Regions from separate parts of the Homo sapiens genome. Here region 1 is linked to region 2. The links come from fine-mapping of genetic effects on gene expression. Tissue or cell type: testis. Region 2 holds a variant in brackets; the other region holds the start of a gene. All regions are shown on one strand. Distances are between the middles of the regions.

Region 1 (8,185 bases), 260 kb before region 2:
GAGAAATTTGGAGAGAGCTTGAAACAAGACAGAAGGATACACTGCTTACAACTATCAAGAAGATGTATATTTAGGCAGTAAAACCTTCCAAATGATCAGATTTTCGTGCATCTCACCCTCTTCACACTTACTTTAACTTTTTACACACAATATTTAAAGACAGCACTATTCTTTTCATAAATTTTCATTTTATACTTCAACACACTTTCCACAAAACAAAGGAACCCAGGACGAAATATCAAGAAGCCGAAAGAAAAATCTAAAAGGGACTGACACTGCCAAACATTCATGCTGGTGCTAGTTTGATTTTTCTCTTTAAAAAGAAAATCATGTGAGTACATTTTGCATTTCCTAGACAGCAATCACTTCTGTCCTTTAAGCTGTACAACTAGCAATATTCTTTTCCAGGAATCTAGTTGGAAAACCTTTTAAAGTCGGCTGGCAATGAAGGGATTAAAAGCTGAGGAATTAAATAACTGTCTCCACCTCCTAGACACCAGAAGTCCAATTTACCAAAACTTTCAAAGCAACAACTCATGACCTCTCTACCCCTGCACTGCCCAGCACAGCCTATGAGAAAAGAGCCCGCGGTTTTCTCGTTTCAACAAGGATGCTCATTTTAATCACTTGCCCCAAGATCTCCAGACCGAGCCTGGCGGGACTTTGGAACTTGCCTGCTCCAAATCCGCCAAATTTCGCTCTCTCCTCCCTCTGCCGCGCAGATCCAGTGCGTTCTTAATTCACGCCCCTACTCTTTTATGCCCACTTCCAGTTACTCATCCCTGTATCTGGGAGCGATGCCCACACGCCTTCCCGGCGGGCTTCTCCGCCAGGGTTTTTTTGGGGGAGGCTGACATAAAGTTCCACGTGCTTCTGTCCACCGAGCGCCCTCCCTCCCACCGCACTTACACCTGAACTTGTCTCCAGCACTGCGGACACCCGGGTGACACATTCTTTCGGAGAGGGAGGGCAAGACTTTTCTCCGGAGCCTCTGGCAACTCGTGGAGTCTATATAAGGTGGGGCGGTGGGGGGCGCGGAATTCTCTACTTTGGATTGGTTTGTTTGTTTTAAATCTAGGGTGGTGGGCAGTTGCGCGAGGCGGGGTGGGGGGTGCTTTATGAACTACACACACACACACACACACACACACACACACACACCACATACACTCGCCCTGCCCTTCTAGGCTCACGGCTGGCTCTTCCCGGCTACAACTTCCCCTTCCTTCCTGAAACACCAGCGCCTTACTCGCTCAGTCCCCCGTTGCCACCTCCGTCACCTCCTCGGCCGCCGCTCCTGCTGGCACTGCTGGCGCTAGCGCTGGCGGCCCCGGGCTCCGCTGGACGCCTATCTTTTTTCTCTCCCTCTTCCCTAGCTCTGGATTGATTGATGACCACCGGCGGCCAATGGCTCTGACACCACGCCATCCTCGGTCGGGCATCACAGCCCCACGTCCCCGACCTCAGCCTCCCGGGCGCGTTGGCATCCCCGAACCCACAGCGCTGAGCCCGAGCCCGGGGCCGCCGCCTCCTCCCTGCTCTACGCCTGGGCGCTGCCAGGTTCCTTCCCTGGAACGGCGGAGAAAGGAAGGGAGGGAGCCAGCGAGCGTTGGAAGGGGGTGTGGAGGCCACGGGATCTCCCCCTCTTCTGACATCTTTTTTCACTTAAACTTTTGTTTGTCCCACCCCCCCGACCTGTTTGTGTTTGTTTGCAGCATCTCAAATCAATTATACATTTTTCATGACCCGCATTTGCACTTAATTTGGGGTGTGTGTGTGAGAGGGGGGTGGTGATGTACTATTATAAATCAACTTCACTGGGGCATCCTTAATTTATTTTCTTGCTGACGGATTCCAACCGGCTCCTGAGCCTCTAGAAAAATGCCCCCTTCACCTCCTAGGCCGCAAAACCCCGGAATTCAAAGGCTTTACAAAGATAACCTTGTTATACGTAAATAGCAAAGAAACTCCTGCCTCTGTAGAGAAGAAATCCGGCGGCAACGGTTACTTTTCCTCGGTACTCGTCCCCCGTCGCCTAGCCTCGACCCCAGCTTGGGTCGCCGGGTCGCTCCGCAGGCTGCGAGCGCGGAGACCCAGGCAGCGGCGGAGAGTGAGGTTGGGGCGCGGGGACGGGGTGAGAAAGAGCCCCGAGCGAGAGCGGCGCGCGCGGGCGGCCCCGGGGGCGGCCGCGGGGCGCAGCCGGAGCACAAAGCTGCGCGGTGCCTTCCCCTCGTCACTGCACCTGGCCTCGGGCCGCCGCGGGAGCCCGGGGATCGGGCCAACACAATGCACCCAGGCCTAGGCCGGGGCGGCTCGAACACATCACCCCGGGACTTTCTAGTAAACAGCTCGCTGAGCCCTCGTCCCCACCCCCATCCCCGCCGCCCGGCTTCCCCAGCTTCTCGCCGATACCCCCTCCTCTCCTCCTAAGAAATCCTGGCGGAGGAGGGAGCGAAGAGGTGGGGACCCCCAGAGGTCGGGGGACTGATGGCTGGAGGGGGTGGAGAAGAGAAGAGGCGCAGGATGGGGAGTCGGAGGGAAGACACCTCCTAAAAAAGAATTTGCTTTCGCTCAGGGGTTGAAAATCAGCCCTCCCCGAGCGCCGAATTGCCCGGGAGGCGCCCGCTCGTGCGGATGTCAGGGGCACCGGGGCAGCCCGGGTCCGCAGCCTCCGAGCCCCTCGCACGCGCCTCTGACAAGGCACCTCTCACCCGGGCTCCGCTTTGTGTGTGCATTTTTTTCCCTTCCTCTAGTGCTCGGCACCGGGCTCCCGGCCGCCTCCTCCCCCTCCCCCGCCCTCCGCCTCCCTTCCCGGGGCGGATTACCTTTCCCGGGCTGCGCTCCGGATCCCGGGGATGCCTTCAGCGCCCGGCGAGCAGGCGATCCATAGCCGAGCGGCCCGAGCCGGCTGGAGGAGCGCTGGGGGCGCGCGGGGGCGGCGAGGGGCGCGAGCGGGCCAGAACCTTCGACCCCGGAGGTCCCGCCGCAGGCTGGGGCTGGGGGCCAGGGGGCGCGGCGCTAGAGGGAGGCGGGGGGAGAAAGGACCCGAGCAGCCTCGATCTGGGGAGAGAGCGAGCGAGGGGGCGAGGAGAGGGAGCGAGGGCGCGGCGAGCCGGAGGGAGAGCGAGCGGTGCAGTGACAGGGACTGCCACTGGGGTCAAAGGAGCACAGCTCCAGGAAGCAGGGCGGCCGAGGCGCCGCTCCGTGCGCGCTCCCCGGCGGGACCCCGCGCCCCTGCACGCCCCTCCCGCAGTCCCTGCCCACTCGGACCCCCACCGGTGCCCCGAAGCCCCAGGGTTTCGAGAGGAGGAGGGAGCCGAGGGCGAGGCCCGGTAGCCTGCTGGTGCTCCCGGGTCAAGCAGGCGGCAGGAAGCTGAGCTGCAAGTTCATCATCATGAGTGCGATCTGCGTAAAAAATGATAGGGGAAGGAAGGCGGGCTACGGTGCCCCAGGAAAAGAAGGGAGCTTTCTCCCAAATGGTGTTCTTCTGCAAAGAGAACACCCAGCTCCCCGCCACCCACCGACCTGCCAGGCTCTGTCAGGAGTCCTGGCACCGTTCCAGGACGCAGGGCTCACCGCAGGGGTAAGGGGAGCGGCTGGGACACTTCGCTCAGACCTAGGAAGGCGACCCTAGGTTCCCTCCCATCTGCTGATCTGAGGCTTTCCTGGGGGAGAGCTGTGCTCCTTTTTCCCCAAGCCTTTCAACACGACAGACACACACACACACACACACGCTCACTCACTCACTCACACACTCACCTCTTTCTCTCTGCAATGTTGCTGAGAAAGAAAAGGCCAACCCAGCTGATCATTTTTTTTACCTCCATGAATTAAGGCAGATTCAGGACAGGAAGGTGAGGAGAGGCAAAGACTCTAATTGTTTCCATTTTCGTCTTTTGGATAAAATTTTCCCCAAAAGATAAGCATGTCAAAAGCATTTTAAAAATCAAACTTAGTCCAGTTTTGTCTGCTACTTTGGAAAATGGAAGAAAAGGTTTTCAGAATTTTGTACAAACAACACAAGGAAAGGAAATGCCGCTGAAATGCTGGAAGACAGAAAACAAGGGAGAGAAGGCTTTTAGAAAACTTGGTTGGCAGGGTTGTCTGTGAAAGATGAGGTGGCCCTGTGATGTTATGCCATTGTCATTGCTGAAAGATTGGGACAGCAACCAGATCTAATTCCTTTCTAGGAGTCAGACTGAAAGATCTGTGCATTCTCTGAAGGGAAATCCAATGTATATATATGTGTGTGAGAGAGAAGTGTGCTAAGTATACTATGTGACAACTGACTAGACATCCTGGCTGAAATTATACCCCCTAAAAATAAAAAGGAGCCATTGCAACCTGGTCTGTGGCCTCTGTGCTGAGACTAATTGGTTTCCAGGGTCTGGGGAGGAAGGGAGAGAGGCTTGTAGGAGCCCCTATAAAAAAAGATCAAACGGAATTCACTTGAAAATATTTCCCTTTTACAATGGGCTTTCCTGGCACTTGAATTTTAAGTAACCCATCTCTTATGCCTAGGCTGAAATGAAAAGGGAAATGGTCTTACTAATGTATTTATTTTATTTTACAGCATGCCCAGAGTGTCAGTGCTTGTCAAATGTGCTGGGGTGGAAAGGACAGTGTCTTTCCTTGCCCAGCACAAATCAGAACAAGTGACATTGACATTAAAGGATGCCAAAGATGGGGGCATAGAGGCACCTTTAAATTTTGTTTTCTTTTGTTTTCTAGCCCATCAGCGAACACTGACTAGAATCACGTTTTTGAAGAAATGCTTGGTTTTGTTTCCTTTACTCTGTGACTGAGTACTACATTCCTCATATCTTAATAGTTTGAATTTTTAGACTGATTTGGGCTGATTTAATCAGTTCAAAAAAAAAAAAGCATCACCAGCCAAATAATTTCTGTGGTTTCCTTCTTTAAAAAAAATTGCAGTCAAACAAAACAGACAAACTAGTTTGAACATGATTCTGAATCTAAATATGTGCACCCAGACAGTAAATAATAATGCTTTCTACTTTAGTGGTACATTTTACAGGATACTTAATGCCATAAAAAATCAAGTGGGTTATCCATTACAAAGTTGATGGAAATTTGTATACCATTTTACTGAGTGGGGAAAATTGAGGTAAAAAGGCTTAAAATTGTAATTTGTAGTGCTGGAAGAAGTCAACCTGCTGATAGATCAATTATCCAATAGTGACCAAGTTATATTTGGATTATGAAATTTTATTTTCATTAGGCTACTAGCAAGCTGGAGATATGAAAATGAATTTAAATAATAAACCAGGAACAAAAAGACACTCACTTTTCAAATAATTCTCTTTACGTGGATTTGAACATATTGCATTTTGTTAAATCATATTGTCTACAAATACAGCTACCTACACTAAAAGCTTAATTTAAAATTATTGGATGTGAACCATGTCTATCCCATCTCCCATATAAGCTTTGAAATGTTACCTCATTATATCAAATTTTAAATCCTATAAGCTTCAGCTTTTTTTTAAAGATAAGTGAGTCTATAAGTTCCATTTTCGTTGTTGTTGTTAAATTCAACTTTTATTGTGTATAATGGAAAAGAAAAGAAGGATGAAAATCAAATACTAAGTTTATGATTGGCTTCAAGGAAATATTACAATTTTTTTCTTTTAATGGAATTCAAAGCTGGACCCTTTCCCCAGTGATTTCATTGAAGGAACTGGTAAATATGCTTCCTGATAGCCCACTGCAATACCTTTTAAATTATCTTTTCAGAATGCATTTAGGAAAGAAAATGAGAAAGAGGAGCGTGGGAGAACTTTGGGTGGAAGCTTGGAAAGAAAATGATGCTTCCCTTGAAAGCTCAATACTTTATTTGGAGTTGGCTTTCATCTTCCCTATGAGAACAGGTTTTCCTGTACTTCAGAGATGTGTATGACTTAAAACTTGGTTCAATACTGTGGTTCTTCTTCTAAAAAGCAATCCATTGAAATTACTGCATGTTATTGAATAATTTCATTGAAATGATATGTACCAGTCTAACTGCAGGAACAAACAGCAACTATTTTATTTCTTTTTTTCTGTAAGTTGTAAGCATTTCTATCATTTTACAGCAAAGGCTAAGATGTATATTATCAGAAATCAGAGCCTCTTAATAGAACTACCACTATGATGTAATTAGAAAATAAAACTCAACAAACTATTTTATTTTTCTGAATTCTCACAGTTCTTATGTTCATTCAAATGTTTTTATTATGACCCCTCCAAGTTGAATAACAATGTCCTATATTTCTTTGAGTTCTTTATCTTTATGTTGGAAATAGTTGTTAAATGACTGTGTGGGTCAATAAATGAGAAAGTAAAGAAGAGAACACACCAGTGAATGAGGCAAATACAGAATTAAGAAAAATCCACACCAGATCTGTGGGAGAGGAAGTGATGTCATGAGGCAGTGTTGTAGGATAAGAGCTAAGGACTTCCCAAGGAGTTAAAATAGCACATTTTAAAGGTCTTGCTAATGCCTTTAGAAATATGGAATAATCCTAAGACTGTTTTACAAATTAATTTTCTTATAGAGAGACAAGCTTGTTATGTATCATGTCCATTTAAAGGCAGCCCTCTTTTTAAATACAGCAGGATGCCACAATAAAAAGAATTCCAAGTAAAACTTGTTCCTTAAAATGTACAGAAATGTATCAAGCCATTCTCAAAAGAAACTTATATAATTAATCTAATTCCTTGATTGATCCTTTTTGAAATCCTCAAAATAAATATATGATTTTTTTTCAAGGGTGGTACTTTGTATTGAAAATTTTCTTTGGTTAACCAGTAAAAATGTTTATGGGTCAAAAAAAAAAAAAGAATCAGGAAACACTAGAACTGATCAAATTTCATTTCATAAAATAAATGTCATGCTCATTATCATCTTAGAAAGGCTAAATTTAATTCAGTTTTGCCTGCAGCTTAAGTAGCAAGCATTGGGGAAGAATCTTAAAATTTAGCAAAACACTCACAAATTCTTAACATACTTACTAGCCAATATCTAGCATGTATCAAGAAATCAGATGAAAATTATTTATGCAATAATTAATTTTAAAAGTCTGAACATGATACTGAGTCTGGATTCATGTGTTCTTAGTGTTAGTAACCATTCTAACAGACATCCATAATCTCTGTGTTGACCTAAAGGGAATAGGCTATGGCACAAAATATAATTTAAAGAGTTTACTTGAGCCAAAGTGTGAGGACAACTGCCTGGAAGATTCACACCCAGGTAACATTGGATATGAGCTTCCTTTGGCCTTTGTTACAAGCAAATTTTTAAAGCCAAATATGGGGGACAGGGAGTAGGCTGACACAAAGTTCTCTGTAAAGAATTCTCATTGGTTTACAGAAAAGCATTGATTAGTGGTTGGCTAGACATTGTTAAGCTATAGGCTGTGAGTTATAGTTTCCAGTGCAGCATTATTAGTTAATTTATAGCTGCTAGGGACAATAACAAGCTATTTCAAGAGATGAATACATAGCTCAAAAGCTGGGGGTTAGGATGGACTTGCTGTCTCATTTTAATGTCTTTCTAGGCCTGATAATTTAAAAGGACTCACATTCCTCAATAAAAGTTCTTTTCTCATTTTAAATCAATTAATGCTTGCTGAGTCTTTCCCCATGTCATGGTCCCAATTTTGGGAAAATGGTAAAATTTTGTCGTACTTGGGATAGGCTTGTCATGGTGGAAAAGAGCTTTCTCATTGAAGTAAACTCAAAATAATCTCTCTTGAAAGATGAGCAGTATAGAAACCCCATTAAAACCTGGTAAAGAAAAGGTATGTGAGCATTTCCAAGTTTAATAATTCAATTTGGCAATCTAGCATAAGATATCTGTATTTCAAGAAAGCAATATATAATGTAACTTTCTTTCTCAGCAAAAATAAATCAATGAATGGATACAATTTTTTAAAACTGAGTTTGAGAGACCAGCAGAATATAAAACCTTTTTCTCACTATATTATTAATGTAATGGCTTGATTCAGTATTCAACAAATATTTTTAAGCTCTGCTCTGTGTGGGGCATAGTTCTTAAACCATGCTTATGGTCTAATGATGTAAAAAAAGCAGAGTTCTTTCCACATTATTAAGTATACAATCTCAGGGGGATGGGAGACAGTGACTTAAAGCATCACATAAATGAATGCAAATTATGGCT
Region 2 (8,185 bases):
TTGCTTTGAGGAATTCCTGAGCTAATTTGGGTGAGATATTGTTATGAGAGTCCAGAAAATCTCTCAAGGAAGAAGTTACGGAGAAGTGGGTCCTGACCACAGCCTTGAAAGATGGTGACTATGTAGACAGTGGGAAAGGAACGTAAGAAACTTTTCGCAGAGAATGCTTTTGACTTCCTGATTCCAGAGGAGTTAGGAGAGCTTCTAAAGACACTTTAGTTTTCAACTGCCCTCCTGATTCATGAGAGTAATGCCAAGTAGTAGTTATATTCCCACACTCTGGATTCAATGCCTGGGATCAAATCATAGAATCATAGATCTACCTAGTTTGTTTCCTATGTTAAAGAGAAAAGGATGAAACATCAGATTTTTTAATCTAAAAAGTGAGAGAGTACCAACTTCCCAGGGTAGTTGAGAGGATTAAGTGAAATAACCAATGTAAATGTCTAATATATTGCAACTGCAGTGAATATTAATTTTTAACTCATTCCTATTAACATTATCATGTTCCCTAATGTTTCCTTCTCAAGTTCTGAGTCTGTGGAGTACTGCTAACTTGCTTGATCTGCCTTCCTCACCCACCTTTTGCCCTAGGTAGAAGAACACATCCCTGATTAAACGTTACATCCTGCGAAGACAGACTGTGAAGGCCAGGCCACAATAGCTGGGGAGACAATGCATTTTTTGTTCAGAGCAGCCACCAACAGTGATGACAAGAGCCATCAATGGGCCAAGGTCAAAGATCAGCAGTCCCTCTGTCACTTCATTCTTCTTCTGGCTCCCAATAGAGTCCATAGGAACTCAATCTCAGTTCTGAAATCTAATCAAAGCTCATCCACTCAGACCCAAGCCAAGGACACCAAAGAACAAATTCATAAGGCAAACAAAGTCTTCACTCAGCCTTCTGCATTTAGTGATTGTGGAAATGTGGTGCAACTGCCAGCTAGATGAGAGACTTTGGAGGAAATGGGTGATTTAAGCCTTGGGAGTGAGGATTAGCAAGAGAGATTGATGAAGATTCTGGACACATTTGGGAAGCACCAGAGTGAGAGCGTGCCATGACTCTCCAGGTGGGCATCTGAGGAAGCTTAAAATGATGAGCCAAATTAAAAATAGGAAATGAGAGCACAGAGGCTGTTTTTGACAAAGTTCCTTACTTCTCTCTGCCTCATGGAAAACAGGAACATCAGCCCTTCCTAGACCCGCCCCCCCCAGGCATGTGTGCGACATTTGTCCTGGATGCAGCTAAAATCCATCCTTTATGATACAGTTTATTCCTTGATGCCATTGTCTGCTAGGAGATTTCCCGGATTCTGAAAGTGTGCAAGCAATACTTTTCAATTACTGCACATACACCCTGACACACCATGTGGCCTTCACCAATTTGCTGCACAATCTATCTTAACAGTAACCACAAAGCATGCTTCTTGATAGTATGGACAAAATCATTTCTCTCTTTTGTTGCTTAGGAATTCTGTTGTAGGCTCAACTTGCTAAACTAGTTGTGCAGATCAACACATGAGAGACAGGAGCCTCTCCACTAAATGAGGGTGGGAATGAAAGTGAGTAATGTCTTTGGGGCCCTTGGAATAGGCCTTTGCTGGTGGAAACCCTGCTCAACAAAGAGAAGAAAGTATCCAGCACAGGGCTAGGCTTGCATCAGCAAAGGGAAACCCAGCAACCACATCAGTGTAAATGATTCTGCTATTCTACCTGGCACCCACTCTTCTTAATGTGGTAACTTAATTTGTCTTGGAGAATAATTATGTTTTGAGTGCTAACTATTGCTAAGCATTATGCTCAACACTTTAAATAAATGACTTCACTTAATCCCTACAATAATCTTACAAAGCTGATACGATCTTGATTTTGCAGGTGAGAGAATTGACATTTGGGCTTAAGAAATTTTGTTAAAAGCTGGAATTCAAACACAGGTCTGTGTGAGTTCAAAACCCATGCCTTCAACCATATCATCATCAACCTTAGTTTCTAGAAATACAAAATCTGCACTCTTTCCTCTGCTGCAGCCTGAGGTAATTTCTTAGCAGCTAAGGCTGTCACAAAGAACCTCTGCAGGACTGTGGCAGTGGATTTGGTCACTTTTTATAGCTCTTGGGATTCATTATGATATATAATTTTCTTATTAAATTTCTATAAACCTATATTGCTTCAAGATAAAGTTGTTTTCCCCTGTTCTGACCCATCTTATGTATCATTGCCAGAGGAGTCTCATAAAGTATAGCTCATCTTGTCACTTCTCTGCTCAGAAACCTCCCAAAGCTCCTGGTTGTCCCTGGGGCCACAGTTACTCTTGGATATGCAAAGCAGGCTGCACCCTGCCTTTCCAGGATGACTTTCTATTCTCTGGTTTTCAACCCTGGGGATTAAACCAGGCTTTGTGAATTTCTAGTGCAACCAGGATTTTAGACTAGAGCTCTGTTCTAAGCACAGTGTGGGTCACTGCAGAATCTCACTTCAAGAAGGGTCCTGTGGTTTCATAAAGATTGGAAAGCACTTCTCTAACTCGACCATATTACAATTCATTCGACAATCCCCTGCCTACACCTCTGCTTAAATTCATCCTTCACGTAAATTGATCTTCCTTACAACACAGTCTTCTGATATCTCATCCATCCTTCAAGGCCTGGTTGGAACGCTACTGTCTCCATGAAGCCTTCCTCAGTAACCCAGACAGAAATCCTTTCCCTCTGCTTTATGTACTTCCACAGCTCTTTTCTTAATATTACTCCTGTAGGACTTGCCACACTAAACCTTGTAGCATGGATATTTGTGCCCATCTCATCTCATCTGACCCACTTGACTTCAGTGTCGTGTCCTGGGGTTGAGCAGGCAGAGATCATATGTCTTCATTATGTCTGTGTGTTACCCTAGCATCTAACACTATGTCTTGATCATGCCAGGAATTTAATAAATATGCATTGATATAAACTGAATTAATATTGATTATTGGGCATCATTTCAAAAAATGGCTTTGGTAAGTTGTCTGCTTGGTGAACACCATCTTTTGTTCTTTGAAGCCAAGTGCTATGGGGACAAAAAAAATAAAGCAAAATGTTTCCACCCTTATAAGACTTTCTTGTTCATAGTGATAAGGCCGTAACTGTTGCTTTCATTTTCTTCCTTCAGCTCAAGACATCCTCGTCCAGGCATGAAATTGGTGCCTTGGTGTTTTTGTTTTCATTTTCACAAATATTCTTCAGGATATTTCCTTCTCCAACTAGAAGGTCTGTTGAGGGCCAGGCAGGGCAATCGCTGGGATATAGACCGAAATCACTCATGGTTTGAGTTTTGTCTCCCTCCAAGTTTCCAAACACCTTAAGCATGTAGGGGACAAGGGAGAGCTTTCCCCTTGGCCTTCTGAAGGTTTGCTGAAAAATCAACTCACAAAAAGCAGATTAATTGGAGAAAATACATAAACATTTATTAAATGTGCATACACAGGAGCATTCAGAATGAAGACCGACAGATACAGGAGAACAGTGTCCATTTTTATGCTTAGGTTAACAAAGTATGAACAGCTGTGTAGAAATATGATTAGACAAAAAGGATATGACCTAATGCTAGTGGACTAAGTGGGGTTACCCAGTGAGGCTGGTCTGTCTAGGTCCTTCTTGGCTTCTTTGTGCAGCTTTCCTTCCTTCTGGGTGTGGGGCAGGCCCTTCTCAAGAATGGGGAGTCTTATGAACTACAGTCAAACAAGGTAGGTCAGATAATTTATTTTAGGGCAGTTTTTACTTTGAAAGGCAGAGGGAAAATTAGAGCAATACTTTTAGGTTTTATGAAGGGCTTGTGGGCAAAGAGGTTCTAGTTTCTATGTCCCACCTTGGGGAAAAGGGATTTGTAGTTTCTTTGGCTAAAGCTAGCCTCAGGGGAGAATGGGACTGAGAGACAAGAGGGAAGGAGAAGGTCAAAAAAACACTTGCTTCTGAGGCCTTCATTTCGGGATATTGTTTTCCGAGCCCCAACAAGCACAAGAACAGTGGCTTCCATTTTTCTTGTATCCTCTCTAGCATCTCTCTGTCTATATGGGCACACAATGTGAGTCCTGAAATAGTACAGCAGCGACTCCCCACTCTGAATTCCACTGTGCTATGTCTCTTCCCTCTGACTCTCATCACTTTCTACCTTTTAAAGTTATGTGTATGTGCATGTTTCACTTTTCCCTCTACACTGCAGATTATCTGAAGTAGAATTTATGCATTCACAAAACCTACTACTTAGCAATCAATGTCTGTTGGACAGATGAATAACTAAATAAATAGAGGGAAGCACCTAATCTTGGGAATAATAGAGAGAAAAAGTTATTCCAAAAAGGAAAAGGAGGCGGATGATTATCAGTGGCTCCTGATTTCAATACAAAAACCTAGCATATTCTTGGGGCACATGTATACTTATTTGCAGCAACAATATCAGGGTCTAATGGACAGAACCAAAAGATATATGAGAGAATCTATGGAATATTCATTTTGGCTGTCTTTGACTACAAAAGGCTTCTAAGAAAAGCCATTCTGATAAATAATAATGATAATAATATCTAATGTTTATTGACCTCTTGCTATGGGCCAGCCACTATGCTAAGAGCTTATGCATGTTATTTCATTTAATCTTCCCAATAACCCCATAAGATAAATGCTATTTTTACCCTTTTAAAATTATAGCTTCATAAGAGGTTAAATAAAGTACTCAAGGTCTCAAGACAGGAAGTGGTAGAGCTGGGATGCCAATCCAGTTGATACAATGTCAGAGACTAAACTCGTGACCTCTGCTACAAATTCTCATTTATAAAATTTCCTTGCCAGAAGCTGCTAGAAGCTCCAGTCCTGTTTGCAAGGTTGTCTTTGACAAAAATTAAGAAAAACTTTGTTGCATAATGTACACTGTTTCTTGTACATCCATCCAAGGGTATCTAATTAAAGAAAAATGATAAGACATTTTGATACATTATAATGCACTGGG[G/C]AACATCCCTGGTGAGGATAAAATACCAAATATTTTCTGTACAGTTTGGTTCTCATGTTTACTGGTGGTCAATAAATGTTAATTTAATTGAATACTTCTGATTTGGCTTGCACAGCCCAAAGTTATTTCTGGGTGGCGGTTTTTGGATGCTATTTGCTCTGGTGGTGACTTAAAGCAGAAGGCCAGAACCATCATAAAAATAGAGGCTGGAATCTGAGAATATAAGGAAGGGAATAACTTTGAATTTTATGTTATGGAGAATCCCTTGCAAACATTTTAAGACTTTTAATTTAGAGGTCAATATATGCACTTTCTTCGGAAGTCATTTTTGTTTAATCAGCAAATACCTTTTTAGTGCTAGGAACTGCTATGCATCCCCCTGAGGAAATAGTGGTGAGCAGGGCAGCCAGGTTCTCTACCCTCAATGAGCTTTCAGTCTAGAGGGGGAGACAGGTCTTAAACAGGTAGTTACGGTCCTGTGTAATTGAGGCAATAACAGCAGAAACATAGGATGTTATAGGAGCACATCGCAGGGGGTAACTTACCCAGGCCTAGAAAGTCAAGAAAAACTTTCTAAAGATCTAGGATCTTAGAGTAAAATGTTGAAAGAACGGAACATTTTTAAACAAAGATGGTAAATATTATTTCATAAAGCATGTAGCTATTAAAGCTATTTTTATTAAGTTCGAAAGATGGCAGGAGGTCTTCAAATGTACTCTTGGCCAAATTGCTAGTTATCTAAACAGAACAAGGGCCACAGCTGAGAGGTTGTGTTAAAGAAAAAATTATTCATGATGCTTGTTAAAGGGCAGTGAGACTGACTTTATTCAGGACCATTGCAATAGGAGTAGGACAACTGAGATGGGGTTTTGCAGTGCAGGAGAGAGGTGACTGTACCTGTAGGGGTGAAAGGAGCTTTTTCCTTTTTCCCTCTGAAGGTTTGGTAATTTGAGTCTATGAAATAAACTGACAGTAAACAGATTAACAGGAGAAAAGGAATACAAATGTATTATGTGCACATGTGCATGGGAGCCATACAAAATATGATACTCAAAGAAGGGCCAGATGGTTGAAGCTTAAATAGCAGTTTGAGCTATAGAAAGAGGCTCCTGGAGGGTAGTGGTGCCAAGCTACAGGAGGGTGAGGGGAGAAACTGCATTGCAAACAAAGGTTGTCTTATTATGCAGATAAAGCCTTCTGAGGGTTACTACCCTCAGAAGAATAGGTGAAAAGTCTATCTGGCAGTGTATCCTGGTCCTGGAGGCCTTTAGTCTCCTCTCCTGCATAGGAATTAATCTTCTCTGGTTAATGTAGTTTCCAGGGAAAGAGTTTACAAAAATTGCATGCCCTTCTGGACGGAATTCTCTTAATCAGATGAGGAAAAACTCAGAGAAAACCCCTTCTTGCACTTCAGGAGAGAAACAGGACTGAGGGGAGAGGGAGATCAGAGAGACTTTGTTTCTGATGCTGCTTCTTTAGATCAAAGTCCCCAGCATGTCAAAGCACCATACTCTGGGGTATTTTTTTCTGAGCCCAGTAGCCTCAACTCTGAGTACAACAAGGAAAAGTGGAAATTTATAGTCAAGAAGCAGAGTTGTGGGGGGTAGAGAGGCTCAGTGTGAAAACTGGTAAGAGGAAACATTAGGGATAAGAGGGCGATAGCAGCTAAAGCAACCTAATGGGGTTCTTGCTGAAGGCAGGCCAGGGTGACATCACCTGAGGGATGGTGGAGCATGAAGAACCTGATTAGATATTAAAGGTGATCAAAGATGGAGGATAGCTGAACTGACTTAGCAGTGTTCTTTTTTTTTTTTTTTTGAGACAGAGCCTCGCTCTGTCACCCAGGCTGGAGTGCAGTGGCGTGACCTTGGCTCACTGCAAGCTCTGCCTCCCGGGTTCACGCCATTATCCTGCCTCAGCCTCCCGAGTAGCTGGGACTACAGGTGCCCGCCATTGAGCCTGGCTAATTTTTTTGTATTTTTAGTAGAGACGGGGTTTTACCGTGTTAGCCAGGATGGTCTCGATCTCCTGACCTTGTGATCCGCCCTCCTCGGCGTCCCAAAGTGCTGGGATTACAGGCGTGAGCCACCGTGCTCGGCCAGCAGTGTTCTTGCTAGAGCTAGACAATGCCAAGATGAACACAGAAGTCCAAAAGTAGAGGACTAGTTGAAAAAAAGAGTTCAGAAGAGCCTGAGTAGAGTTTGGTCAAGGAGAAACCTATGTCATTTAACAGGCACAGCTCTGCTCCCACTGGAGGAGGGATTCTTCTGGAAGCCTTCCTTTCCTCATCCAAACTGCTTCCATTTCCTTAGCCCAGAAATGCTGAATGCTGGAAGAGGGCTGCCATGGTTTGAATGTTTGTCTCCTTCAAAACTCATGTTGACATTTTAATTGTTATCATAACAGTACTGGGGGCTGAGGGCCATGAGGGCTCCACCTCCATGGTGGGATTGGTACTGTTAGGAAGGGTGCCTTTAGCCTCCTCTTGCTCCGTCTCTCACCCTCTCGCCTTCTGCCATGTGATGATGCGGCCAGAAGACACTTGTTAGGTGCCATCACCTTGATACTCAACTTTTCAGCTTCCAGAACTGTGAGCCAATAAATTTCTGTTCATTATAAATTACCCAGTCTGTGGTATTCTGTGATAGTAGCACAAAACAGACTAAAACAAGGTCTTTATTGTGATTCTAAATCTGGCCTAAATGATATCACGTAGTCTGTTAATTTTTTATATAGATGCCCTTTGTGTCACATTTTCTGCTGGCTTATGTGTCTTTTAATCACACCTCACAGCAACAGGAGCTACTTGACAGGGTGCCACGGTACCAACTTTTTCATCCTTGGATGCAATTTCAGAACGGTATTCCATCAAAAGGAGCAGCAGGATTCTATTAGAACATCTCTTATCTAATACAGAAACACAGTTCTGTCACCACCAAATTTTCCAGTTCACAAATGCTAAGAGTTTCAATACTATTACAACCACATAGTTCAACGGGATTTAAAACCTATTTTTAAAACAGTAGACTGGATTCATCTTTAATACATAGACCGAGTTTTCCATGTGTTCATATGCCACCTAGTGGGCTATATTACATACAAAATGTAAAACTGATCTTTTGAATTATAATCTAGCATTTTCTTCCTAAAATTTGAGGTCCAAGTGACAAATCTTAGCCAGTAAAATCTCTAAATTTAAAAGGTAACG

Which allele goes with the higher level. Alleles are on the strand shown, and positions count from the first base shown. SD is a standard deviation of normalised expression in the study named.
For the expression in testis of the gene that starts at base 3,137 in region 1, allele C in region 2 goes with a lower level than allele G (moderate effect, 0.53 SD a copy in GTEx).

Evidence for each region. PIP is the estimated chance that this variant, and not a neighbour inherited with it, causes the effect.
Region 1: it holds the start of MPPED2, and the variant in region 2 is fine-mapped to the expression of MPPED2 in testis (GTEx, PIP above 0.99).

The regions. Positions count from the first base shown.
Region 1 is chr11:30,583,217-30,591,401 of GRCh38, forward strand. It overlaps MPPED2 (metallophosphoesterase domain containing 2), which reads right to left and starts at 3,137. Exons shown (of 7, transcript NM_001584.3): 1 at 2,826-3,137. MPPED2-AS1 (MPPED2 antisense RNA 1) reads left to right here and starts at 934. Exons shown (of 5, transcript NR_183760.1): 1 at 934-1,017. RefSeq lists a silencer at 3,042-3,091.
Region 2 is chr11:30,847,534-30,855,718 of GRCh38, forward strand. All of the region lies in intron 3 of LOC107984419 (a long non-coding RNA gene), which reads right to left. Among named protein-coding and RNA genes, the nearest start is that of LINC02859, 120 kb to the left of the region's middle. The variant G/C (reference allele first, on the strand shown) is at 4,978.